3 separate regions of the Homo sapiens genome follow, and all the other regions are reported to be linked to region 3. Evidence: microRNA targets listed by miRTarBase, many of them from high-throughput screens and not tested one by one. Region 3 holds a microRNA gene; each other region holds the end of a gene's coding sequence.

Region 1 (10,488 bases), not on the chromosome of region 3:
CTCTGTGTATGTCCAAGCCTGAGGATGCCTGTCTGGTCATTGGCCTCAGGTCAGGGAGGTGAGACCCGAGCTTTCTTAATGGGGAGACAGCCTTGTGGAATTGATAGAGATAGTGTCAGAGACCCCTTAGGGCTGGTTTCTCTTCTGTCCAGCTGCCCTTTTTGGAAATAAGATAAAGTGTCAAAAGCTTTTCTTTACATCATTTCTTTTTTTTTTTAGACTGGAGTTTCACGCTTGTTGCCCAGGCTGGAGTGCAGTGGCACAATCTTGACTCACCACAACTTCTACCTCCTGGGTTCAAGTGATTCTCCTGCCTCAGTCTCCCGAGTAGCTGGGATTACAGGCATGTGCCACCACACCCGGCTAATTTTGTGTTTTTAGTAGAGATGGGGTTTCTCCATGTTGGTCAGGCTGGTCTTGAACTCCCGACCTCCCGCCTCGCCCTCCCAAAGTGCTGGGATTACAGGCGTGAGCCACTGCACCTGGCCTGACATTCTTCACATAAACAAACTCTTGTGGTTCTATAATTATTTATGTCCATCCCAGGACTCATGGACATAAATAATTATAGAACCACAAGAGTTTGAAGCAGGCAGAATGGAATTTACTAGGATAATCTCTTAGCTTAAAGGCACGGTTTCTGTGCATTGTCATGGCAACAGTTGGCCCTCTGTTGGCTTCTGGATGGAGTGTGATGCTGCATTAGAAACAGGGAAAGAGAAGCGGAGCAGATGGTGTCTGGCCGGCGTCTGGCACTGGATTGACGTTGATGAGTACGGAAAAGTCTGCCTTTCTTCCTCTTGGTCTTAGTTTTGCCATCATCTCTGGGAGGTCCTCAGAAGTTAAAATCTCATTGTCGGTATTTCTTGATTTTCTGATAGCTGTTTCTTTGTTTAATCATTTCTTTTACTCCTATGGGACTTTAAGATTTCAGCATGGCTGTGGGGTCGGAGGCACTGAAGGCTCCATCACCTTCTGCCTGCTCCGTGGGGGTGGTGAGCGCACTGTGGTCTGAAGAGGCCCTTCCTGGTGGCCTAAGAGCCCTCACCTCTAAAGATGAACAGCAGTTGCTCAATTTTTGACCATCTTTGGGTTCTTGGTGGATTTGGGGTGTTCTGCTGTCCTCATGATCCTGGAGGTACATTTTCTTTATATATATATATGTTATTCTGGAGAACGGACCTTGTGTGGTTTTTATTACCTCTGTAAAGGAGCTTGTGACCCAAGAGCAGTTCGGCATGATGGCCTAGAACTTTGTTTTGGGCTCTGTAGGGAATGAGTGGATGTGGACACCAGGGTAGGCCACCCCTACTCCTTCCATCTCCTGTGTTGTTTGCAGGAGACGCCCCTTCCTTCTGTCAGTGTGGTGGGATCTTGTCATAAACTGTGGTTCTTAAGAGCCTGGTGGCAAATTAGCAGGGAAGGATGGGGCGAGAGCTTTTAGACAGGTAAATCCTGGAAAACAGAGCACACATTCAACACTGGGTCTTACCTGTGTCTATATTTACATTAATTAAATGTAACTAAAAATAAAATTCAGTTCCTCAAGTGCCAAGCCACATTCCAAGTACTTACTAGGCATGCATGGCTGGCGGCTGCCGGAATGGACAGGACAGACGGAAGCATTTCCATCATCCCAGAAATCTCTTGACAGAGATAAAATAAACTTACAGAGTTTATTTTATGCTAAAAGGCAAAGAAGTTCTTGGTTTTCAGCACCAGATTGCTCTCTGGCGAGATACCCTTCCTAGCTTGACCCTCTCTTTCTCTGCTCTAGTCTTTAGAAGAAGTGTGTGACCTGCTGCACGCGGCTCCTTTCCAGAACATCTTGCCGCGAGTCCATGTGAAAGGTGAGCCTGCTGACCCCCACCAGGGAGTCCAGACTGCCCTCTGTGGGGGTGGTGCCCACTGTATGCAACCGGAGAGCTAAGGACCAGTGCAGATTGTGGGTTTGGCGCCTGTTCAGTCATACCCAGGGGTAATGAGGAGTGTACAGAACCTAGTTAAATGAAGATTGAGAAATAGAGCTGCAATGATATGATGTCTTAGAATTGCTTCCAAATATCAATAGCATGGGAGCAGGGGGAGTTGGGTATATAAGAAGCAGAGTGGCCATGAGTTGATAATTATAGCAGATGATGGGTACAGGCTCATTGTGCCATTTTCTGCTTTCGATTACATTTGGAATATTCAATAAATGAAAAGTGAATATTGAGCAGAAAATTGGTTCTGCCGGTTTGAATTAAAATATTAAATGAGCCAGTTCTGTAAAATAATTTTCAAAGAGAATCTGTATCCATAATGTTAACTTAAAAATCTTTTGTTTTTTAAACAAATGTAAACCTTTGCAATTACCGTTTCATACAAAGGAGCAGAATATAGTAAAATATTTTTTCTACTGCAGAGGGGGAGAGACTTGATGCCAAAATGAAAAGACTAGAATCAAAGTACGCCCCGCTGCATCTTGTCCCACTGATTGAAAGACTGGGGACCCCTCAGGTAACGTGTACCGTGATGGCTGTGGCTGTTGCAAGCTGGGCATCCATGCCAGGCCAGGTGGCCTGGTTGGGAGCCAGACTGGAAGGCATCGTGAAGTCCAGCGGCTGCGTGGCTGCTCAGGCCTCAAGTGTTGCAAGTGGGGTGTGCACCAGGACTGCTTCCCTGGGTGGTGGGAGGATTCAGATGAGCTAACACCTGGAAAGAGCTTAGCACATCACCTGGCACGTAAGGCTTACACAGAAGACATCACTTTCACTGTCCAGCCCTTCATGAAGAAGGCTTTCCCATAGGTGTTTAAGAACAGAAGAAATTAGGCCAGGAGGCAAGGTGTCAGGGTAGAGTTCTACAGTGATCCAGCTGCTTATGCTAAGTCAGGGTTTCTCAGCCATTTTGGACCAGATAACTCTATGGTGGGGGCTGGGGCGCCCTGTGCATCGTAGGATGGTTAGCAGCATCCCTGGCCTCCACACTAGCTGCCAGTAGACCCGCTCCACCCAAAACATTTTTCCAGGGCCGGGCACCGGGGTTCATTCCTGTCATCCCAGCACTTTGGGAGGCCAAGACAGGAGTTTGAGACCAGCCTGGGCAACATGGCGAAACCCCATCTCTACAAAAAATACAAAAATTATCCGGGTGTGGTGGCATGCACCTGGTCGCTTGAGCCTGGGAAGTCAAGGCTGCAGCGAGCTGTGATTGTGCCACTGCACTCCAGCCTAGGCAGCAGAGCAAGACCCTGTCTCAAGAGAAAAGAGACATAGAGGATGTGGAGTAGCTGGATGCCTGGAGGCCCACGGCATTCCACGGCTTGTCCTTTCTGCAGCAAATTGCCATCGCAAGAGAGGGGGACCTGCTGACAAAGGAGCGCCTCTGCTGCGGCCTGTCCATGTTTGAGGTCATCCTGACACGGATCCGGAGCTTTCTGGATGACCCCATCTGGCGCGGGCCTCTGCCCAGCAATGGGGTCATGCATGTGGACGAGTGTGTGGAGTTTCACAGACTGTGGAGTGCCATGCAGTTTGTCTACTGCATTCCCGTGGGGACACACGAGTTCACAGTCGAGTAAGTGTGTGCTGAGAGCAGGACAAAGCCCCAGAGGAGGGGAGGAGCTGTGGGGGAGGGGAGGCGTGTTAGGCTAACAAGCAGCCAGCCATGCTCAGGAAGTGGACCAGAAACTCACTGAGCGGCTTTTAAGCCTCCTGTAGTGGGGATTCTTACTTGATGCCAAAGAGCTGACTCAGGACTCTAGTATTCAGGGAGTCTCTGAACCCACGGCAATTGTATGCACGTTGGGCGTGCATTTTTCTAGGTGGGAGGTCCATAGAGTCATTCATCACAGAGGGGATATGATCTAAAAAGGGACAGGAAGCAGCACACCAGAAGAGCCCAAAAAAGTTATTTATCAAAACCAGGGAACAGCCACCTGGCTGCCCGGCATTCTCTTCCTGGCTGTGGAAGGTGACTGTGTAGGCACAGACAGTAATGCAGATGGCTTGGTCACTGACATCTGGAGACAGACTGAGAAAAGACTTCATAACGTATCACTCATCTCCCATTCTGTTTCTGCTTCTTGTTCCTAGGCAGTGCTTTGGTGATGGGCTACACTGGGCTGGCTGTATGATCATCGTACTTCTTGGGCAGCAGCGGCGTTTTGCTGTGCTGGATTTCTGCTACCATCTACTTAAAGTCCAGAAACATGATGGCAAAGATGAGATTATTAAAAATGTGGTATGTGGATGAAAATCTCGCACCATCTATGGACCTTTTGCAAAAGCATACTTTCTTTGTGTTATAAGTTCTTGTTTCTGGCAATGTTTTTCATCCTAGTACGTAAGGTGCCACCAACAGAAACTTTCTTTTCGTTCCCAAAATGAATCTAAATATAATTGGCCAGTAAAGCAGTCTGGCAGAGAAAATACTCATTGTTCCGTTTTCCTTCTCAAGGTACTTAGATTTACTTCCAGTCTTACAGGATCTGCATTGTCAGAATATTGGCAACTATAGTCTTCGGGCCCCTGGAAGTCTGTGCTTTCTTGGCTGCTTTAAAGGCCTTTTGTCTTTGTTGCTTTATGGATCCCTCATAGTTGAATTCTGGAAAATACTCAGCCATTATCTTTGAAATATTTCAGCCTCCTTTCCATTCTCCCTATTCTTGCCATTCAGGACTTCAGTTAAACATATGTTAGACCTTCTCATTCTATTCTCCACATCTCTTTGTTGTATCAGTTTTCTTTTTTCTTTCTTTTTTTTTTTTTTTTTGAGACAGTTTCGCTCTTGTTGCTCAGGCTGGGGTGCAATGCCACGATCTTGGCTCACTGCAATCTCTGCTGCCCAGGTTCAAGTGATTCTCCTGCCTCAGCCTCCCGAGTAGCTGGGATTATAGGCACCTGCCACCACGCCCGGCTGATTTTTGTATTTTGTAATTTTGTATTTTTAGTAGAGACTAGGTTTCACCATGTTGGCCAGGCTGATCTTGAACTCCTGACATAAGGTGATCCGCCCACCTCCCAAAGTGCTAGGATTACAGGCGCGCCCAGCCCTGTTGTATTAGTTTTCTATTGCTTCCATGACAACAAATCACCACAGGCTTGGCAGTTTAAATACCACTGATTATCTCACAATTCTCTAAGTCAGATGCCTGAGTTCAGCCAGGCCCAGCTGGGTCCTCTGCTCAGTCTCATGGGGCCAGTGTCTGAGGTGCTGGGTTCACCCTGGAGGCCTTCAAGCTTATGCACAGTTGGCTCAATTATTCCTTGCAGCTGTAGGACTGGGTCCCCCTTCCTTCTCATGCTTTCCAAGTGGCCCCCTCCAGCAATGGTGGGTTGGGCAGTCTCAGCCTCTAGTCTTCTGCCATGTCTCTCCTGCCTCCGGCCAGAGAACATTCCCTGACTGTGACTATATTGAGCCCACTGGACAACCCCAGATACTCTCCCTGTTCTACAGTCCAGTCTTAGCCACACCTGCCCAGGCCCCGTGGAGTGGAGGCAATGCAGTCACAGGCTCCAGGTCATGGGCCTCTCTCAGGGGCCCTTCTGCCTCCCACTCCTCCATTTCCGGGGCTCCCAGAGCTGTGTCCAGATACTGTATTCATGTGTCTTAGTTAACTTGTTTACTTCAGCTCTAATCTGCTGAGCTTTTACTCTGAAAATATTATTAGTTCACTTTTTAAAGTTCAATTAGGTTCTTCAAATCTTCTTGGTAACTGACAGTTTTATTGTCTTAACTGAACTTTTTCCATCTCTTATTTCTTTATCCAATTCATGTATTCTATATTCTGTGTGTTTTCCTTCTAGTATCTGAAGGCCTTGGAGGTATTTAAAACTTTGCTGTTTCCTTGTGTGTTGGGTTATTTGGGAGTCTTTATTTAACTGGAGTTAATTTAGATTGCTTTCCCCCAAGATGTGCATTTGTATCTGCCCATCTCTATGGGGTGCTACCAACTCAGGGCCGCTTTAGCCGAATTGGAGGTCCTGGCTTCACTGGGGAGTCTTCGGTGTGGTCCCGCTTGCTTACGCCCGGGCTGCTCCTCACCCCACCGCCGCTGTTGGCATCTGCCCCTGAGGAGGCCCTGGCTTCCCCCTTACCACCTGCATAGGTAGAACCAGCTTTTCAAAGCGTTTTGTTTGCGTGTATGTTCTTAATTCGTGTTCTTTATTCCTGTGGTAGCAGGAGGGTCTGTCAGAGTATCCCGTCACAGTATTTCCAAACTGGAAGTCTAAAACTTGTGTTAGTTGACTGGCCTTTCTCCACTGACCACATCATCTTCATCTGGAGATCCCCAGCTTTGAGCAGACAGTAGGTTCTTAATTGCCAATGTGGAAGGAATAGGCCTATCAATTGTGCGCATGAATGAATCTACAGCAGCATGAAGCCAACAGAGGGATTCTAAATTCAAAATATATTCATCCTTCCAACTGTTGCATTAAAGAGATGGTATGTGGCTGGGAGTGCTGGCTCATACCTGTAATCCCAACAGTTTGGGAGGCTGAGGCAGAGGAGGATTGCTTGAGCTCAGGAGTTCAAGACCATCCTGGACAGCATAATAAGACCTTGTCTTTACAAAATTAAATTTAAAAATTAGCTGCGTGTGGTGGTACACGCCTGTGGTCCCAGCTACTCAGGAGGCTGAGGTGGGAGGATGTCTTGAGGCTACAGTGAGCCGTGATCATGCCACTGCACTCCAGCCTGGGCGTCAGAGTGAGACCCTATCTTACAAAAAAAAACCCAAAAAGAACAGTATGTGTGTCAATTCCGTTTGCTATTATTTTTCTGAGAAAATATAAGAATCCTGACATTTTGAAACATGAAGAATAAATGTTGAAGTGTTAATAGTAAAACATCCTCACTTTGATGGTTGTAGCCTTTGAAGAAGATGGTGGAGAGAATTCGCAAGTTCCAGATTCTCAATGATGAGATCATCACCATCCTGGATAAGTACCTGAAGTCAGGCGACGGGGAGGGCACGCCAGTGGAGCATGTGCGCTGCTTCCAGCCGCCCATCCACCAGTCCCTCGCCAGCAGCTGAGGGCACGCGCTGCACTCCGTAACTCAACATGGCATGCCTTTCTCTCCGTAAACTATTTAGTGAGATTTTTAGGGACTATTTTTCAGTATCTCTGTACCTGTTAAAGGGGGTGCTTTTCGATCTAAAAACTTAATTTTATAAAATTGACTTATTTTTCTAGACTAAAATTGTATATGCTTTTGGTAATTAGGAACTCTTGAGAATATTGGCTGCTGATTGTTGCCATCACGTTCCTACAAAATTGTTTTTCTATGGGATGTTCTGGCAGCTGTGTCATAAAATGCTGCTGGGTTCATTCATTCATTCCATAAGAAACTTAATACCAGCAAATGCATTAAATCCCTTGCCAGTTACCATTAACTGTAACTATTTAGCTTTTGTTTAGGGATCTTTCTGATGGTCTTTTATGAGCAATCTTAGTTCTAAGTCATTGTTCCCATCCCTTTTTTGTGTGTTTCAGAAAATAGTGAACTTGATTCCCCTGCTTCCACTAAATCCAGTTGTGACAAAATCTAACGTGACATCAGATCGAAAGGTTATAGAAATAAAACTAATGAGATCTATTTGTGTTCATTTATTTACTCTAACCCTGTGCTGCCTGGCTTGGCAAGGAACTCTAACCTGAACTCACATACCAGGCCAGCTGGGATGGAGGTCACCTCTAAGGCTGAGGTGGGATGGGACCGTGACACCATCCCATATACCGCTCACCTCAGCACAGGTTTAGCTTTATATTTAGGGTTCCGCAGGCAAATGAGGTGTAAAACGGCCGTGTTGGCTGCTCCAATCTGGATATGAAGAGGCTACTCAGTGCCTCTCTGTTACCTGTGCCCATGACCTGGAGGAAGCCAGCAATGTGGGAGGAGATCAGTCAGGCCCAGTGGGTGCTGCACAAAGGGACCGGGAGCACCGAGTCCAGCCTTCAGCTGTCCCCGATCCACAGGGCTCACATGGCTGGAGCTGGTTCACATGATCTGTCAGAATGAAAAACAATCGGTCTAGACTACCAGTAGAGTCACGAACATGTTTGAGAAACTAAAGCCATATTTTAAAAAGTACTAAGGCAATGAGGTTCTGAAAATCCTAACTAACTGAATGGAAAAAGATGCTATGCCTGTTTATTGTAGATGAATACTACAGATAAACACAAGTCCAGCATGATTAACTGAACTCACTTTATATTGTAGCCTGGCAGTCATTTTACATTATTTGGAGTATTGCAACCTTCACCAATTTTAAAATTTTCTATGGATGCCAAGTTGCCATAAAAAGCAGGCCTCGCCTACTTTTCCGGAGGCCTTTGGAAACTGTCCAGAAGCATATGATGCACGGCACAGAAAAGTAGTAAGTGTACGAACCATCCTGTTACACTGCCAAACTCACTCAAGTGACATGAAGCCTAACAAACAATTATTCTTTCTTTATAAAAAGTTCCCTAAAAATGCTTTTGGTAATGTGAATTAATAACCCTGGGGCCAGCATTCTGCTGCAGATTTAGAGGTGGTAGCTGTGCTTATCTTAGAAACTACAGAATAGGATGAAAAATTATGGTAAAACTTAATCAATTACCAAGTTTTATAAGGCTTAATTATATACCAAATATGTAATACCTTAGGTATAAGACAATCTCAAGTGCTACAAAATGTTAAATAAGAATTTATTATTTATTAACCTATGCATGTTCAAATGAGTCTCTGTCCTCAAGGGGGAGAAAACTGGTTCTTTTATGTACAAAGCACAGATGTAGGTACAGTATATAAACAGATACGTAGTACATCTGTAGTATTAAAATGGCATGGGAGGAGGCAGTTAGAAAAAACATCTAAAACAGCTCCTTAGAAGGCCAATAATAAAGTTGGAAAAAAGGGAGTTTCCACGCAGCCAGTGGTGAGCTGCATGGGATACCAGCACCATTGGCAGGGGAGGCCCTCGGGGAGTGATGGCTTGGCGCTGGCGCACCACTGGGTAACCTCCAGGCAGGAGCCACAGGCTGGAACAGGCGAACACTTTCTTCCCATCACCTAGGTGGAAATTAATTCTGCCAATACTTTTTTTTAAAGGCCAGTCAATGGTTATGAGTGGATAGGTTCAAAGCTGAATGGAGTTCATTAGACCTTTTTTATTATTCTACCTTTTCTGCATATGTTTGCAGTTTTCCATCGACTTCTTCATAAACAAACATTTTCTAGAAACCAAAATATGTAGTGGCCCAAAGGAGCTCTTAAGCAAAGTACTTGGTACAAAGAGACCATATTCTATAAACATGTTAAGTTTGTTCTAAGCATTCAGACTTTTAGAATAAGAACTTCATTTCAACTTTTTATTATAACATGAGCTAAATTTAAGAAACAACCCTAGTCTTCTATTTCCCAGAGCTGTTCAAAGTCTAAATGACAATATAACTCATTATGAAAATATACTGAAAAGTACAAGAGCTGATGTAAAACGGTAATCAAGGTTCCAGGCATCATGGGATTAGGGTAACTGAAGAATAAACCCAGCCAGGCTGCAACAGCAGGCAGGATGTGCTGGCTTGATGAGGTGCTAAGGCCATCGAATGCTCAGAGGAAGCCGGATTCACGGTGATCATCTCAACCTGAGAAATCGTTCCTTGGGGTGATTTCTGCCCTTTTTTTTGTTTTGTAAGAAAGAGGTTCCTTCATTCAGTAACTTAGTTTTCCCTTAATAAATATTTCAAAAATAAAACCAATCATCATCAAACAAACAGGAGCCACTTTTGTAGGTAAGGTAAATCACAGGATAATGTATTGGGATAACTCTGTTTTTTTAAAATAAAAAAGCCTTACATGGTCAGGGATTGATGGAGTGGGGATGACAAATGCACATTTCAGACTTTCATCACCAATGAAAAAATAAAGCATTTTCATAGACTTAAAACTGTCATTAGTGCATTCGGCTTTTGGAGAAGGGATGAAAATGTAAAATACTTCTACAACAATAAAATGTTAATAGAAATCGTCATGTGCTGAGGTCATTTTAGTGAGCTACCATTGTTTGTTTAAATACAAGAAAAGTAATTTCTTGGTCCAAATTAGTGAAATCTTTAAAAAGATTGCCTTTAAAGAACATTATTTGAGGACAATGTTTTTTCAGACACATTCTGATGATATTCAAATTCACTTCATAACAATCACAGATTAACCTTTAATTACACCTTTCTTAAAAAGCTGTCAGATTTCCATTTCTTCGGGAGACATTTTCACCAGTGTGTTGTTCGATTCCACAGGTTAAGCTTTCTTCATTATTATTAAGAACTTCATACATATTAGAGAGATTGCCATTCATTGCTTTCTCGTCTTTTCGAAAAGACACAGGCAGACTTGCTAGACTAAAGCTGACGTCTTTAAAGGCATGCAACAAGAATATCCCCACAATGATTGTAAAGAAGCCACTCAAAGTACCAATGACATCGTCAACAGGCATATCTTGCCACTCCTTAAAAAGAA
Region 2 (10,923 bases), not on the chromosome of region 3:
ACAGGCATCTTTAGTCTGGGGAGGGTTCATTCCATGAGCAACATATACATATATTTGGATCATTACTATGCATGTGAGGATGATTGGTAGGAAATCACATTTCATGAACTGAGGAAGGTAGTTTTATAACAAATCAGTGATAACTCTAAGCTTTAATTTGTTGTCATAGTCTTCCTTGAAAAGATCTTTTGTCTAGTATTGAAATGCATTTGTGTTTTCAGGGAAACCCCAAAGCCACGGAGAAAATCAGGGAAGGTAAAAGAAGAGAAGGAGAAGAAGGAAATTAAAGTGGAAGTAGAGGTGGAGGTGAAAGAAGAGGAGAATGAAATTAGAGAGGATGAGGAACCTCCAAGGAAGTGAGTAGGCAATTATTAAAAATGAAAATCTAACAGATTTTGAACGACTAGTGGAAAAAAGAGTGGGAGTGTGAGGAAGGATGTTGACGTATACATGCTTCAAAATATGTATTTTTTAACTTAAAAAAATTTGGCCTCAAGCAGCTGACAATTTCACTGGAGAGACTCTTAGTAAAAAAATGTTTAGGTTTTTCAGTTCTATTGCAAGGAGAAGGTATTTTTTAATCTTAGTGTTTTTAGATGATACATGGTAGCAACTCTAAAAGTAATACATTGAGATTCTTCTAAGTCTTTCATAGTATTGCATAGTTTATGGAAGGTATATATTTAATCTGTCTTACAGACTGATTTGAAAGTGAAATTACTTCAGGGTAAAATTACTTGCTTGATTTGCCAGATATATCTTTGACTTTATGTATTCTTGGTTATCCTTTGCCACTTGTTCTTTGGCCGTGTGTGTGTGTGTGTGTCTTCAGCCAGCCTTCACTGTGTAGTTTTGATTCAGAATATGTCTACTGTTACCCTGTCTTCAATTACAGGAGAGGAAGAAGACGAAAAGATGACAAAAGTCCACGTTTACCCAAAAGGAGGTGAGGAATTTTTACCCCTACTGTTTTACACCTTATTCCAGTACCAGGCACTTTACTCACAAATTTAGACTTCATGATAATCCTGCAGGAATGGCTATTTAAAAATTTCACAAAAGCAACTTCACTAATGTCCTAGATGCACAGGTGTTATGATCTTATTTTCATTGTAAGAGCTTGAAATTTCTAACAATCTTAATACTTTACCTTTGGGGGGTCATTAGTTTATTTGTGTTACTTTTTAATTCTGTCAAATATTTGCTAATTCTTGGTTACTTCTAATACAAATTCTGTGTAATCTGTATAGTAGTAAAGAGATTTTAATTCTTCCTACTATAAAATAGCTATTCCCAATAGCACAGTTTAAGTCAGAGGCCACTGTGCAGAGTACCACTTTTTTTTTTTTGCTAACTTTTCTTCTGCATTTTGATAATAGAAAAAAGCCTCCAATCCAGTATGTCCGTTGTGAGATGGAAGGATGTGGAACTGTCCTTGCCCATCCTCGCTATTTGCAGGTCAGTGAAGTTGTTATATAAGAGCCTTTCAGGTTGTGTTCCATTACTTGTTCTTGCACCACGAGACTTTAATTTGTTGGCTTGTGTAGGCTTTATCATTGACATGTAATGTCAAGAAAAGTCTTTCTTTAAACATAAAATGACTTTAACCCATTTATGCCTAGTGTTCCATTATTAGAATGCTAAGCTTGGGCAAGTTATTTATATCCTACTGTTCAAGGTCATCACCAAGGTCTGATTTTTCACAAAAATACATTTGCAACCTCCAGCATAAATGGGTTAATCATGATTAGTCCATTTGTGCTGCTATAATAGAGTACCTGAGACTGGGTAATTTACAAAGAACATATATTTATTTATTAGCTTGTGGTTCTGGAGACTGGAAAGTCCAAAAGCATGGTGCCCACATCTCACAAGAGCCTTTTAACTGTGTCAGCCCATGGTGGAAGGGCAAGAATGGGTTGAACTTGCTTTTGTAACAAATCTACTCCAATGATAATATCAACCCATTTATATAAGGGTAGAGCCTTTAAGACCTAAGCACCTCCCATTAGGTCCCGCCTTCCAACACTATCACATTGGGGATTAAGTTTCCAACACATGAACTGTGGTGAACACATCCAAATTCATAGCACCTCCTGTTTAAAAAGAGGTGACTAAGAATCTGAACCCACATAGAGAACTTTCGTTGGAATCTTTCAATATTACAGTAATTCCCAATGTGGTGTAAATACAGAGTAACATTTTATTTTAAAGTGATTTAGAAAAAAAGTAAAATTAGAACTCAAACCTGTGATTTCTTGGGTACTGTGTAGAATGAATAAAAGACTTTTAGTTGAGGTTTTGTTTTTATTTTTCTTGAGTAGATTATTATTATTATTTTTGATGAGTAAACGTACCACTTATATTTAGGTCTGGCAGGAAACGTGAAAGTGAAATACTGCTTAGGAAATACCTGTTTGATCTTCAGCAACAAATATAACATGACACGAAGGCCTTCTTCTGGATCGTGGTTCAGTTATAACAATAGCCGCTCCTCCTCTGCTGTGTGCCATTTGCTGCTCTAAAGCACAGTACAATACATAATCTCTTATCCCCATAACAACACTTTGAGATGGTTATTGTTACCTCCATTTTACAAATGAGAACTGGAGCTTGAAATATTTGTCTCCTAAGATTACAAAGGCTAGTGAATGACAGACCCAGATTGGAAACCAGGTCTGTGTATTTCCACCTATGTTCTTAGCCACTTTATTATACTCCCTCACTATCCATGTGTGAAATCTAAGTATTTGGTTTTCCTTCAGTACTTTTGACTTAGCAAAGACAAGTACTTTCAGGAAGCCTTAATTTTTTTTTTTTCGCCCCTTTCACTTTCTCTGTTTTAGCACCACATTAAATACCAGCATTTGCTGAAGAAGAAATATGTATGTCCCCATCCCTCCTGTGGACGACTCTTCAGGCTTCAGAAGCAACTTCTGCGACATGCCAAACATCATACAGGTACTTTTAAAATGTGTTTATCAAGTAGGTAATTGCACTGTGCTTTAGTTTTGCATGTTGGTAATGATAACGTTTTTCTAACATAAGTCTTAAAAGATTCTATAGTCAAGTGCGGGGAAAAGGTGTGAAAATAAAATGTAGTAAGACAAATTTTACAAGGGATGGGCAGACTAGGACTTTTGAATTTTTATCCTTTGACTTCTTGAACTTCTATGACCGGGATAATGATCTTCTATTGAGCATTTATTCTGTATCAACTGTGGACTAAATACGTTATGTATATTATTGCTAATTAGTCTATTCAACACCACTAAATTTGTTTATATTGATCTTATTTTACAGCTAAGAAACTAGAAGCTTGGCAGGATTAAGTAACCTGCCCATGGTCACATAGCTAGTTTTTAGGAGAAGCATAATACTCTGCTGCTATTGAAACTGTGAAGTCTAGCTGTTGAATTTGCATGTAAACTCCCATAGGAACTGTCAAAAAGAGTTGCTGAGTGTCTGCAATATGTATTATAGAATAGACTCAAATTCAATTTATTTGTAACCACTGACCATCTCAGTGCAGTGTACCTAATAGGAACAAATTGGGTGCATACCACTGAGTATGTCCCAGACACTTGATAATTACACATTACCTTCTCAACAGTCTTAGAGAGTAAGTCTAGGAATTCTAGTTGTAGAAATATGTCTCCTGCCCAAGGTCATACTGATAAATGAAATAACTCCTTCATTTACTGTAGGAAAGTTACTTAACTTCTCTTTTCACTTTTCCTTCTCTGTGTATTAAGGATACCAATATCAGTTATTGTAGGGATGAAATGAGATAACATAAAATGCTATTGACTACACAGAGCCTGGCACAATACCAGGATTGAACTTGAATCTTAATCACTCCAAAGTCTACAGTTTTCTTATACCATGTTTCTTCAGAGTTATTTCCACAAGTAACAGTTATTTCTGTTTCTTGATAGGTACTGCAATTTCTCTGTTCCTTCTGCTCCCTGTTAATACTGTTTTATGCCATAGAAAAGTTGTTTCTGACAGCCACTTTAGATTGTTTTAGTTAAATATCAAAAGCGTATGAAAAACTTTTATAAATTCAGTCCATTTCAAATATTTATATTTGGTTAATACAATTTATGATGTTTTACTTTTGCAAATTAGTATATACAGACTTTTTTTTGCAAATGTCATTTATTTAGCAAATAGATGCCCCACACAGGTTTGTCCTGCTATGGAACTGGAAATGTGGACATGACCTGGGAGATGCTAAGAGTTTCCTAAGTTAGAACTGTGCGTTTTTAGACCTTGCTATATAAAGTATGGAATACAGACCAACCAGCATTGACATCATTTGGGTTCTTATTAGAGATACAGAATCTCAGGCCCTGCTTCAGACCTGCTGAATCAGCATATACATTTAATAAGCTATCCAGGTGATCTCTAAGCTGTTTGGAAAGGAGTATAAGATTAAATTGGATATTGTTCACCTTTTAACTTAAATTCATGTTTTCATTCTCATTAATTCTGGTAATTTGAAGCAAAAGGAGTAGAAAATGTAGTGGTCATTAATTCAACAAATATATATAGAGAGCATCTCTTTGTGCACGGGCTTCCCAAACACGGTAAAGAAATGAATAAGTACAATGCTCCTTTTTCCTCCTCATAGATTCCACACCGTGTTACCACATTCATCAGAAATCCTGCATAATGGGGTTGAGGGTGTTGTGAGTGACAAAGGGAGGTAGTTGAAAGGTGCAGAAGATGGGTAGGAGAATAAGGTAAAGTAGTACAGGTGTTATTTACATATATTTGATAGCAGCAACTCCAGTCTTTTGAGAAAAGTTTATCTTGAGTAACATTTTTTAAACCTGAAACAGGGTATGATTACCTTTAGATCAGTTTTCTTCTATACAGTGCCAAGTTCTTGTTTTTTGTTTTTGTTTTGTTTGAATGCCAGATTCTTTCTGTGTAATCATTCAGTTTTCATTGTCTGTGAAAAAAATTGTTTACTCCTTAAAGGAGTAAAATATATGGAAAATATAGTTGTTTACTTGCTAACCACTTGGTATCCAAGACCTGGATTAGTGGTAAAATTGAGATTAGGATTCCATTTCTTATATTTTTATCTAGTTTTTCTGTTTGTTTTTGTTTTTTTTTAAACAGGTCCTTATGCTACTGAATGTTGGATTTTTTTTAAAGCAATACTTTTCTTTTTTAAATTTTGTTTACCCAAAGTGTTTATACATTGAAAACAGCATTGCTTTTACTCTAAATTGCCTGCCCCATCATCTGCTTACTTACTGTAAGGGAAAATATTTACAGGGTATCTAAATAGAACACTAACCACAGTATTTTCTTCATAGATCAAAGGGATTATATCTGTGAATATTGTGCTCGGGCCTTCAAGAGTTCCCACAATCTGGCAGTGCACCGGATGATTCACACTGGCGAGAAGCCATTACAGTGAGTATTATTTACTGGTGAACATCTGGGTGAGAAGGATATATGCCCTACTTGAAGGTTTGCCGCTTTACAAACATATTAGTTGCCACTGCTGTTTACTTTCATCAAATAAATGAGTGGATATTGATTGGGGGCATTAGTTAGTAGCCTTTTTCTTAGTTTCCCTCTGTTTTTCAGGCAAACAGAAGAAGATCAGATTAGTTTTCCATCTAGTAACATTTCCCAATCCTTCAAAAGAAGTATGTTACTGATTATTGTGTGTGTGTGTGTGTGTGTGTGTGTGTATGTATATATATGCTCTAAACTCTAACCCTGATCCTGAATAAGAGCACTCTTTATTTCTCTGTTGGATCAGCCATTTCCTTTTCTCCTCTCCTTAGATGTGAGATCTGTGGATTTACTTGTCGACAAAAGGCATCTCTTAATTGGCACATGAAGAAACATGATGCAGACTCCTTCTACCAGTTTTCTTGCAATATCTGTGGCAAAAAATTTGAGAAGAAGGACAGCGTAGTGGCACACAAGGCAAAAAGCCACCCTGAGGTGCTGATTGCAGAAGCTCTGGCTGCCAATGCAGGCGCCCTCATCACCAGCACAGATATCTTGGGCACTAACCCAGAGTCCCTGACGCAGCCTTCAGATGGTCAGGGTCTTCCTCTTCTTCCTGAGCCCTTGGGAAACTCAACCTCTGGAGAGTGCCTACTGTTAGAAGCTGAAGGGATGTCAAAGTCATACTGCAGTGGGACGGAACGGGTGAGCCTGATGGCTGATGGGAAGATCTTTGTGGGAAGCGGCAGCAGTGGAGGCACTGAAGGGCTGGTTATGAACTCAGATATACTCGGTGCTACCACAGAGGTTCTGATTGAAGATTCAGACTCTGCCGGACCTTAGTGGACAGGAAGACTTGGGGCATGGGACAGCTCAGACTTTGTATTTAAAAGTTAAAAAGGACAAAAAAAAAATCTAAAGCATTTAAAATCTAGTGAAATAACTGAAGGGCCTGCTCTTTCCATTGTGGATCACAGCACACACATACATACACCCTCCACCTCCCCATCCCCTGTTCTCCCTCTGTTGCTCCCCTTATAAAATTGATGTTGTCTTTACCAGAAAGGTAGACAAAAAAGAAGCAGCAGCAGCTCTTAAAGTGAGGGTTATTCTCATACTCGGTTCCAGCCATCAGCAGACTTCCTGCTCATCGGCAGATCCCCCTTTCCAACCTGTAACTCTGATGTGCTCTGGATCAGCTTTTAACTTTTAATCATATATTACTGTCTTCTAAATCCCTTCTCCTCCTCTACTGCTGCCCTATGGTTCTGGCTCCTACCCCCTGCGGCACACTTATCTTCAAATACCATAGAATTCTAATCTCTGGAGGCTGGCAGCTTGACTTGGCACTTTAGGGCCCCTTAGCAGGGTGAGCTGTTAAAACAGCACACATCTCTCATCCCCTCTTCCTTTATTCCCCCCTGGGTTTCAGAAAGGAAGGATATATGGGGACCACCTCCCCCTTCTTTGATCCCAGCATCTCAGTCCCCCTCCCAACCCTCCATATGGCTCTCAATGGTGCTCACTTGCTTGGAAGCAGGCTCCCAATAGGGAGGGGGCTGCCCTCTACAGTCTCTTTGACTGTAAGACAGGGCTCTGTATCAGTGAGACGATGAGAAAAGTCCCAGGCTAATGGCAGAAATTTGCACTTTGAACATGTGTGTTTTTGTGTTGTGGAACCTGAGATTCCTTATTTATTAACAGGAAGTCTGATTTTTTTTTTTTGGAGTCTTTGTTGCTATATTTTGTGGGGCTGGGAGAGAGAGATTAGATTATTTTGACATGGGATCCCTTCCATAACAGGTACTTTGAAGGCAAGACATAGGGTTGAAGAAGCACAGCCAGCCTCTGAAATCATAGCTCTCCAGTGGCTTTTAAAGAAAGCTGGTCCTCAGCACTAACAAAATCACTACAATAGCCTAGTGCTTTTTTGGAAGCCTTTTTAGGGAAGAATGTTAGGTTCATGGTAACTAGTATGCTCTTTGAGATTTTTACAGTGTTGAAACTTAAGAATTTTGAGAGGGTGAGGAGGGTTGTTCAGAATCTAAATTACAGATAGATGATTGTTTCTTGTGAATTTGTTTCTTTTCCTTTTTTTTTGTCCCTACCATTTCCTTACATTTCCCTTGGGGCCCATCTCTGGCTCCTTGCTTTTTGTTTCTTGCTTTGCTTTATCAGTTCATTCCAGCTCCCTGTTAGTGAAGGACACTGCTGTTAGTGAAGGAACAAAGTCTATGAGTCCTAAAATTTTAAGTCAAAGAAAACTGCTCTGTTTCCCCTTTAGTAACACTTCTGAAGAGGAAAAACTTCAATAGCCAAAGTTAATAATCCTATATAATAATTGCTTTGGCTTTCACCTAAAATTCTGGGCATCACAATTTCCTTGGGATAGAGGTTGTGTTGGGGAATAGATTGCTTATTGCTGTTCACTGGAGAGAAAAGGTAGTGTTTTTGTACAAGGTCATACCGCCAGAAGCCCCAAATCCTATTTTGGCTCATCTTCAGGTAAAGAGTAATTCCTATCCTGTGTGCCTCAGAAGCTAGAATCGAAGGCTTACCCTATTCATTGTTTATTGTCAGAAATGCATGATGGCTCTTGGAAAGAATGACGTTTTGCTGGAAAAAAAAAAAAGAACAGTTTGTGTTTCACAAACATGGCTTATCAATTTTTTCAAAGAATTCTTTTTTCCCAAAAAGAGGAGTAACAAAATGTCATTTCTGAAAGAGGCTTACTTTATACCAACTAGTGTCAGCATTTGGGATGCCAGGGAACAGAGAGTGAGACACCTACAATCACCAGTCTCAAATGCGCTATTGTTTCTTTTCAGAGTGTTGCAGATTTGCCATTTCTCCATAATATGGGGATAGAAAATGGAATAAAGATAGAAGGGATGTAGAATATGCTTTCCTGCCAACATGGTTTGGAGTCGACTTTGGTATATTGACTAGATTTGAAAATACAAGATTGATTAGATGAATCTACAAAAAAGTTGTCCTCCTCTCAGGTCCCTTTTACACTTTTTGACTAACTAGCATCTATATTCCACACTTAGCTTTTTTGTCACACTTATCCTTTGTCTCCGTAAATTTCATTTGCAGTGGTTAGTCATCAGATATTTTAGCCACCTACACAAAAGCAAACTGCATTTTTAAAAATCTTTCTGAGATGGGAGAAAATGTATTCTCCTTTCCTATACCGCTCTCCCAACAAAAAAACAACTAGTTAGTTCTACTAATTAGAAACTTGCTGTACTTTTTCTTTTCTTTTAGGGGTCAAGGACCCTCTTTATAGCTACCATTTGCCTACAATAAATTATTGCAGCAGTTTGCAATACTAAAATATTTTTTATAGACTTTATATTTTTCCTTTTGATAAAGGGATGCTGCATAGTAGAGTTGGTGTAATTAAACTATCTCAGCCGTTTCCCTGCTTTCCCTTCTGCTCCATATGCCTCATTGTCCTTCCAGGGAGCTCTTTTAATCTTAAAGTTCTACATTTCATGCTCTTAGTCAAATTCTGTTACCTTTTTAATAACTCTTCCCACTGCATATTTCCATCTTGAATTGGTGGTTCTAAATTCTGAAACTGTAGTTGAGATACAGCTATTTAATATTTCTGGGAGATGTGCATCCCTCTTCTTTGTGGTTGCCCAAGGTTGTTTTGCGTAACTGAGACTCCTTGATATGCTTCAGAGAATTTAGGCAAACACTGGCCATGGCCGTGGGAGTACTGGGAGTAAAATAAAAATATCGAGGTATAGACTAGCATCCACATAGAGCACTTGAACCTCCTTTGTACCTGTTTGGGGAAAAAGTATAATGAGTGTACTACCAATCTAACTAAGATTATTATAGTCTGGTTGTTTGAAATACCATTTTTTTCTCCTTTTGTGTTTTTCCCACTTTCCAATGTACTCAAGAAAATTGAACAAATGTAATGGATCAATTTAAAATATTTTATTTCTTAAAAGCCTTTTTTGCCTGTTGTAATGTGCAGGACCCTTCTCCTTTCATGGGAGAGACAGGTAGTTACCTGAATATAGGTTGAAAAGGTTATGTAAAAAGAAATTATAATAAAAGGGATACTTTGCTTTTCAAATCTTTGTTTTCTCTTATTCTAGGTAAGGCATATTAAAAATAAATATGTAAAGAAGAAAAATAAAAGTTGTCTTCATGGAAGCAACTTGTCTTCCTTGGTTGTACTGAGTTACAGTTATCCTAGGGGTGAAACATGTGATGCTGCTAAGCAAACCAAATGCCCTCAGAACAGGTGTTATGTGGGGCATACTATTGTTTGCTTTTGTTGAGAATCAGGTGGTTAATTTTTGACTGTTCTTGATTTCTAATGCTGAAATGACATGATTCTGTTATTCAGCAAACTTGGAAATCTTGATGTTTTGACAACTGCCTCCTAGGAAAACTGGCCATATGTTAATTAACCTAGTAGATGGAAAATTAAGGATTATGTGAGGTTAATTTTACCCTGATAATGACAAAACCTTGATAGCATTTAATATTAATACTTCTTCTCAAAATTGAATGTTTATATCAAGTACTGATTTTTATTTTAAAAAAGAAAAAACTATAATCCTTCTGCCTTCCAAAAGCCATGCTGTGATAGCTGCCCAGGCTGCTCTGTTACATCTCCCATTTATTGTTTACTTTTATAAATTTGCTTCTAAGATGGTATGTGTTTCAGCTTATTGGCAATATCTATGATATAAATAATGAAAGCTAATTATTTCATTTAGCCCTTACCCAATAAGCATCATTTTCTAAGTTAAATGCAATAGAATGACAACCCTCCAAGTACCTTTTAACTTTTATACTGTCATTTCAAAGCCCAGCTCATTCTCTTATTTTAAGAAGCATGTGGTATGACTGGGTAGGGGAGAAAAAAGGAAAGCATGTTGTCACTTGAGTGAGACTGCTTTAGAAATGTTACCAAGTTAGCGTTGGGTGTTTCCTGTTCTTTGGAAGAGAACAGGCCTAAACAGTACCTTCCTCCTCCTATGTAGCTACCAGGAAGGCACCGTGATTGAAATTAGAGATGCTTCCTTGCTTGATTTTTAAGTATAAATTAAATTACCTTTAAAAAGTACGTAAGGTTAGGAGTGAAAAAAATCCTGTTTTTAAAGGACTTCACACACCCTTTGTTTCTTGAACAAGATGTGAACTACCTAAACAGAAAATGAAATTGGAAAGTCAGTGGGAGAGACAACTATAGAATCAGACTTCTATTTAAATTCAAGCCTCGTTACTTGATTTTGTGCATGTTATTTCTTGAAGTTTCAGTTTCTTATATGGAGAAATAACATTTACCTCAGAAATATTCTGAAGATCAAATGGAATTGCTTTAAAGTATTTAGCTTACTGACTGACCCATGGTAGATACTTAATAAATGGCAGCTGTGTCAATAACAATTTTATTGAATGAACATT
Region 3 (5,598 bases):
CGTAATGGCATGATCTCGGCTCACTGCAACCTCCACCTCCCGGGTTCAAGGATTCTCCTGCCTCAGCATCCCAAGTAGCTGGGATTACAGACATGCGCCACCACGCCCGGGTAATTTTGTACTTTTAGTAGAGACGGGGTTTCCCCATGTTGGTCAGGCTGGTCTTGAACTCCCGACCTCAGGTGATCTGCCCGCCTCGGCCTCCCAAAGTGCTAGGATTACAGGCATCAGCCACCGCCCCTGGCCTATATATGCAAGTTTGTTACACACGTAAACTTGTGTCATGGGGATTTGTTGTACAGATTATTTCATCACCCAGGTATTAAGCCTAATATCCATTAGTTATTTTTCCTGATCTTCTCCCTCCTCCCACCCTTCACCCTCCAAGACCAAGAACTCTTACTCCATTTTCAATTATTCCCCTGTGGAGCGCTTAGTGCTTGAGGTCAGCCCTTTGGCTTGTCCCTGGTCCTGGGATGGAGTGCCTTTGGGGGCCAGGCTCCATATTCCTAGATTTTATTTGCCAACTCTGCCTTGGGACTCAGGGAAGGAAGGGTTAAATACAGAAAGCAGCTGTTTCAGCGAATAGTTCTGCTAGAACTTACTCCTCTGCGCCAAACTCTCACACCCGTTTCCATTCCACCAAGTGGTCAAGAGCGGGGACTTCGAGAGATGTAGACCTCCAGAAGAGAAGGGTGGGTCCCTGTTCTAGGGAGTGCTGCGCTTAATGAGTAGTACTCATTTGGAGGTGTGCTGTGGAGGGCTGTGAGGAGGATTTCCCATGGGTTCTTTGGAGAGAAGGGAGCGATAGAAATGAACCAGGGTTCCAAAGAAGTCTTCATAATCGTTCTTTCTGCCACCCTTCACACTATGCCAGTCTACAAGCTGTAGTTCCACTTTTCTCATGGATGAAACTACATGGGTGGAAGGAGCTTCAGTGGCCCAAGCTACAAGATGCTCCCTCTAGTGTCTTGTACGCTCACAAGTTTTTTTCCGACCTTGGAGAGGCCTAGTGATCTAAAGCCTTCCACTTAAGTCTAAGGGGCCACCAATCAAGTCCTGCCCGCCTCTGCAGCTCCAGGGTTGAAGCTCTTGGGCCGTCAGACCTGCCACTCATTTTCTTCCTCCCTTCCCATTGGCCCATGGTAAATAGCGAGGCTTTTTTTTTTTTTTTTTTTTTTCATTGATTGGGCGGGGCCCAATCAGGGTTGGGTTGGGTCTTTGACAGCTTTCTTTGCCAGATTCAAAGATGGCGCTTACGGCCACGCTAAGAATGCAGCGTGAAGCTGCAGTTCTGCCATCACTCAAGATGGCTGCCCCCATCAAGATGACCGGGGTGTGCCGGGGGGAAAGGGGCAGCATGATGGTCTGAGATGGTAAGGGATACTGCACCATTGCGGGCCTGGTCTTGGGGCCTGGGAATGAAGAATAGAGAGGCTAGGGAGCTAGGTGAAGTCTGTGGTGGGGGCTAGGATCAGAGAAAGGGAGAGAGGACAAGGGTGACAAGTGGGGGTGAGAGATCAAAGATGGGGCGGGAGTGTGCCTAGGGTTGTCTCTCCATGAGTGCTCTCCTTCCCTACTCTTCCTGTTCCAGGTGTAGCGTCGGACCATGTGGAAGTTTCTGAGGCTGGGGAGCCGGATAATGGGGGGTGGGGCCCGTTGGGGGGTAAAGGGGCAATAGCGTCCTTTCACAGGCTAACCTCGGCTCTTCCCAGTCCTCTGGACTAAAATGGGGAACACATTGGGCCTGGCACCAATGGGGACTTTGCCCCGCCGGAGCCCCCGCCGAGAGGAACCCCTGCCCAACCCTGGGAGCTTCGATGAGCTGCACCGTCTATGCAAAGGTGAGAACTTGGCACTTGGGTGTCTCAGGATGAAGGGGCAGAGGAGTGGAGGGTCTTGAATGCCGGATGTCCGGCGATGGGAGCAGGAAAGGGGAGATCATAGCTGGGTCATGCAGCCTCAGGGAGGATCAGGTGCCCAAATGAAGTGGAGCATTTCATTGCAGGACTTGAAAGGAGGTTAATTCCTCCAAAGTGTTCCCTATGGGATTGAAAGGGGAGACTATCTTTTGGGGTAGGGGTTCTTTGTCTGTGCTTATTCCTTCCCTTCCCCTACCCCCTTCAGATGTATTCCCAGCACAGATGGAGGGAGTGAAGCTCGTTGTCAACAAGGTTCTGAGCAGCCATTTCCAGGTGCTCCCACTTCTCTGGCCCCTCCTTACTATTCCCCCTTTCCTGTCCCTGGATCATCTTCTCCTTTCCTTTGTACTCCAGCCCTAGCCAGTCTATGTGGGACAAATGAGGGAGGATGTGGGGTTCTCTTTACCTCCGTGCCTGTGGGACTTGTTGCTTTTAATCCGATGACCTTCTCTGTATATGTTGGAATATTTAGGATTCTTGAGAGGCCCTCTGGATGGGGAAAAGACTAAGGGTGGGATGAGGGATTGAAGTGGAGCAGGAATGCGCTTTTCTCCACTGAATCCTCTTTTCCTCAGGTGGCGCACACTATACACATGAGTGCCCTGGGCTTGCCGGGATATCACCTCCATGCGGCCTATGCAGGGGATTGGCAGCTCAGTCCCACTGAGGTGAGGGCTCCACACACCTGGGTCATCTCCCTAAAAACCAATCTGGGACCCAGGTCTGGAGGAAGAGGAATTGTGTGTGTTATGGGGAGGAATGGGCCGTAACCTGATTCTCTGTGTCTTTTCTGAATGAGAGAGGGTAGAGAAACATTTTCTGTGAAGAGCCCAGAGTGTGTCTTTGTGACTCCACCAGGGGGCGCTGTGCACTCTTAATGAAGTTCTATATTTGGGTTTAGGCTGAGTGGTGCCATCCGGCTCAGCCTTACTACTGTGTACACCCTTCCACAGGTGTTCCCCACTGTGGTAGGGGATATGGACAGCAGTGGCAGCCTGAACGCCCAGGTCTTGCTCCTCTTGGCAGAGCGGCTCCGAGCTAAGGCTGTCTTCCAGGTGACCACAGTTCCTGCCTCCATCCCCTGAGGCACTTCCTCTTTCTCCTCCACGGGTTTCCTGCTCTGAGGGCTTGGAAGGAGGAGCAGAGTCTATAATGATCATAAAGAGGGAGGGAGATTTTACTTCTTGCTCTTGCCACCCAGACGCAGCAGGCCAAGTTCCTGACATGGCAGTTTGATGGCGAGTATCGGGGAGATGACTACACAGCCACTCTGACCCTAGGAAATCCTGACCTGATTGGGGAGTCGGGTGAGGAACTGGGACAGGGTTCTTTTTATCTTGGCGGCCCATTTGCTAATGTTACTATGCCTCTTCATCTTCTGTACAGTTTGGAGTTTAGAAAAGGAACTTCTTGGGCAGGCTGGGGTGGCGGTTATTGGGAGTGAGGGAGCAGGTCTGGATATTGTCTCTATGACTGACTCCATGTCTCCCCATTCCCCCACAGTGATCATGGTTGCTCACTTCCTGCAGAGCCTCACTCATCGGCTGGTGCTGGGAGGAGAGCTAGTTTATCACCGGCGGCCAGGCGAAGAGGGGGCCATCTTGACACTGGCTGGGAAGTACTCGGGTATGGGGCGAAGTGAAGTAGTGGTGGTGGTGGGGGGCAATTCTGGACTTTTCTGGGGTTCCTGGCCTGTGTCATACTACAGTTAACACTCCTTCCCCTCTGTACTTTGGATTTTACAGCTGTACACTGGGTAGCTACATTGAATGTGGGATCAGGCGGGGCCCATGCAAGTTACTACCACAGGGCAAATGAACAGGTGAGACCTCTGATCTCATTCCCTCCTTGTCAGCAAGTCAGTCATGAACTTCTGTTCATCTGGACCTCTATCGCCCTGCTGACCTATTTTTCTTCCTACCACGCTGTGTATATATTTACATGCATGCCTCCATTCTGCTGATTCCCCATCAGGACCCTTCTGGTCTTCACTGATACTGATCTCTCTCTCATCCTTGCCCATGGTTCTCAGGTTCAGGTTGGAGTGGAGTTTGAGGCAAACACAAGGCTACAAGACACAACATTCTCCTTTGGTTACCACCTGACTCTGCCCCAGGCCAACATGGTATTTAGAGGTGAGGGTTATTGGGAGACATTTGGCTATCCTGAGGAATGGGGGATGCAGAGGAGGGAGGGAAGCTCGACCTTACTTCTGGTGACTATTTCCTCCAATCCCTGTTAAATAATCTAGTGGGTATTCTCTCCCCCAACAGGCTTGGTGGATAGTAACTGGTGTGTAGGTGCTGTGCTGGAGAAGAAGATGCCCCCTCTGCCTGTCACCCTAGCCCTTGGAGCCTTCCTCAATCACTGGCGCAACAGATTCCATTGTGGCTTCAGCATCACTGTGGGCTGAGGTTGTCCAGAGCCAGCCCCCACAGCAGCTGGAACCTCTGAGTCAGGTGCCCTAGGGCCAAAGACTAGGCCCCTCTTCAGAGCCCACCTTGCTGGGTGATCTCTAGGACCCAGGAGCAGAGTGGTGGACAGGACCATGCCCTCCTCAGAACTGGAGCTGCCACAGGGGCAGTTGATGAGGCAGAGGTTTGAGGATCCCCCCTCTGCTACCAGCCCCAGTATCACCTTCCCCATGCTCTTGTGGCTGTGGACTAAGGGAGAAGGATTAAGGGGTATGGCTGAATTCCCCCGGCACCCCTTGCCCTCAGGCTTCCTTCTTCCTTTCCCTTTGGTTAATCCTGCATGGGATTAGCTGACCATCCTGTTTTCCATCCCAGAGCCTCCCAAGGCTGGGAAAGTAGGGCTGAAGGGCTAGATGTTTGGTCTCAGGAAGTGGGGCCCACCCATTCCCAGAAGGAGCTTCTTTACCTCTTAGCCCTGAGGTTTCCTCCTTCCCATCTTCTGTGCTTCCAGAGAACAACTTTGTTCCTATGGTCACCCCCACTATCCCCATGACCGCATGAAGAGGCAGTTATTGCTTTAGTCTTTCATTGCAACCACTGGGCTCCCTTTGAACCCGGCCCAATCTTTGGTCCCAGCATTTTCCCACTCCAGTGTATCCAGGGTGTTCCAGGTGAGCTGGGGAAGGAAGTGAGCATGGCCTCAGCTGCAGATCTCCTGGAGCAGCGGCATCATGGCAGACAGGCCCTGGATGTGCTGGATTTGGTACCCGTAGGCCTCATTAATGCTCCGGAGCTCAGCCAGCAGGCCTAGCAACTTCGCATACAGAAACCTTTGGAGGAAGTAGTGGGGTTGCCAGGAAAACAGGAGGGAAATAAGGCAGTTGGGAGTCTTGTCTCTAGGCCCTGATCCCCTGAACTATTCCTCAGTGAAGCCAGGTCTGAACATTAGAGAAAATCATGCTCTGGTATGACAGACTATCAGAGGTTCCAAAGGTCCTCCAGGGGGCCTCGGTCTGACACTGTCTTCTCTCACCATGCTCAGTTTTTTCTGAACCCAGAGCTCTGAGAGCCGAGTGTGAAGAAAGCTCCAGACTTGGCCAGAACTCCAACCATGTGGAATCTGAGGGCCTGGCCTTCTAGAGCAGGTTCTAGAAGGTGGATGTGTTCTATGGTATAAAGCATCCCCTTTCTGGCCAAACTAGCTCTTGGAGGAACGAGCAAAACAGAAGCGGTGCATACCTCAGAGCCTGGATAAATCACAG

Evidence for each region. Region 3 holds the annotated microRNA hsa-miR-5187-5p (UGGGAUGAGGGAUUGAAGUGGA, at 2,435-2,456, shown strand). A microRNA usually pairs through its seed, bases 2 to 8, with sites in the 3' UTR of a target mRNA and lowers its output. Matches are read on the target gene's strand: a 7mer-m8 pairs with bases 2 to 8, a 7mer-A1 pairs with bases 2 to 7 and ends in A, and an 8mer does both.
Region 1: miRTarBase lists NIPA2 as a target of hsa-miR-5187-5p. Seed matches in the 3' UTR shown: 7mer-m8 at 9,950-9,956 and 7mer-m8 at 9,851-9,857.
Region 2: miRTarBase lists ZFP91 as a target of hsa-miR-5187-5p. Seed matches in the 3' UTR shown: 7mer-m8 at 6,878-6,884.

The regions. Positions count from the first base shown.
Region 1 is chr15:22,866,561-22,877,048 of GRCh38, reverse strand. NIPA2 (NIPA magnesium transporter 2) reads right to left here. Exons shown (of 8, transcript NM_030922.7): 8 at 8,665-10,488. The coding sequence ends at 10,202. It overlaps CYFIP1 (cytoplasmic FMR1 interacting protein 1), which reads left to right. Exons shown (of 31, transcript NM_014608.6): 27 at 1,778-1,850; 28 at 2,405-2,499; 29 at 3,320-3,558; 30 at 4,077-4,224; 31 at 6,857-9,997. The coding sequence ends at 7,021. Among named protein-coding and RNA genes, the nearest start is that of NIPA2, 33 kb to the right of the region's middle. RefSeq lists enhancers at 3,510-3,804, 3,130-3,805.
Region 2 is chr11:58,611,383-58,622,305 of GRCh38, forward strand. It overlaps ZFP91 (ZFP91 zinc finger protein, atypical E3 ubiquitin ligase), which reads left to right. Exons shown (of 11, transcript NM_053023.5): 6 at 222-356; 7 at 896-946; 8 at 1,380-1,458; 9 at 2,847-2,961; 10 at 5,334-5,433; 11 at 5,814-10,168. The coding sequence ends at 6,324. ZFP91-CNTF (ZFP91-CNTF readthrough (NMD candidate)) reads left to right here. Exons shown (of 13, transcript NR_024091.1): 6 at 222-356; 7 at 896-946; 8 at 1,380-1,458; 9 at 2,847-2,961; 10 at 5,334-5,433; 11 at 5,814-6,186. Among named protein-coding and RNA genes, the nearest start is that of CNTF, 5.8 kb to the right of the region's middle.
Region 3 is chr1:161,224,761-161,230,358 of GRCh38, forward strand. It overlaps MIR5187 (microRNA 5187), which reads left to right and starts at 2,426; the gene lies at 2,426-2,501. TOMM40L (translocase of outer mitochondrial membrane 40 like) reads left to right here and starts at 1,300. Exons shown (of 10, transcript NM_032174.6): 1 at 1,300-1,376; 2 at 1,595-1,844; 3 at 2,128-2,195; 4 at 2,498-2,590; 5 at 2,876-2,977; 6 at 3,124-3,229; 7 at 3,426-3,548; 8 at 3,668-3,744; 9 at 3,955-4,057; 10 at 4,196-5,598. The coding sequence starts at 1,730. The coding sequence ends at 4,335. NR1I3 (nuclear receptor subfamily 1 group I member 3) reads right to left here. Exons shown (of 9, transcript NM_005122.5): 9 at 4,909-5,166. The coding sequence ends at 5,037. RefSeq lists enhancers at 706-815, 1,276-1,345, 2,860-3,039.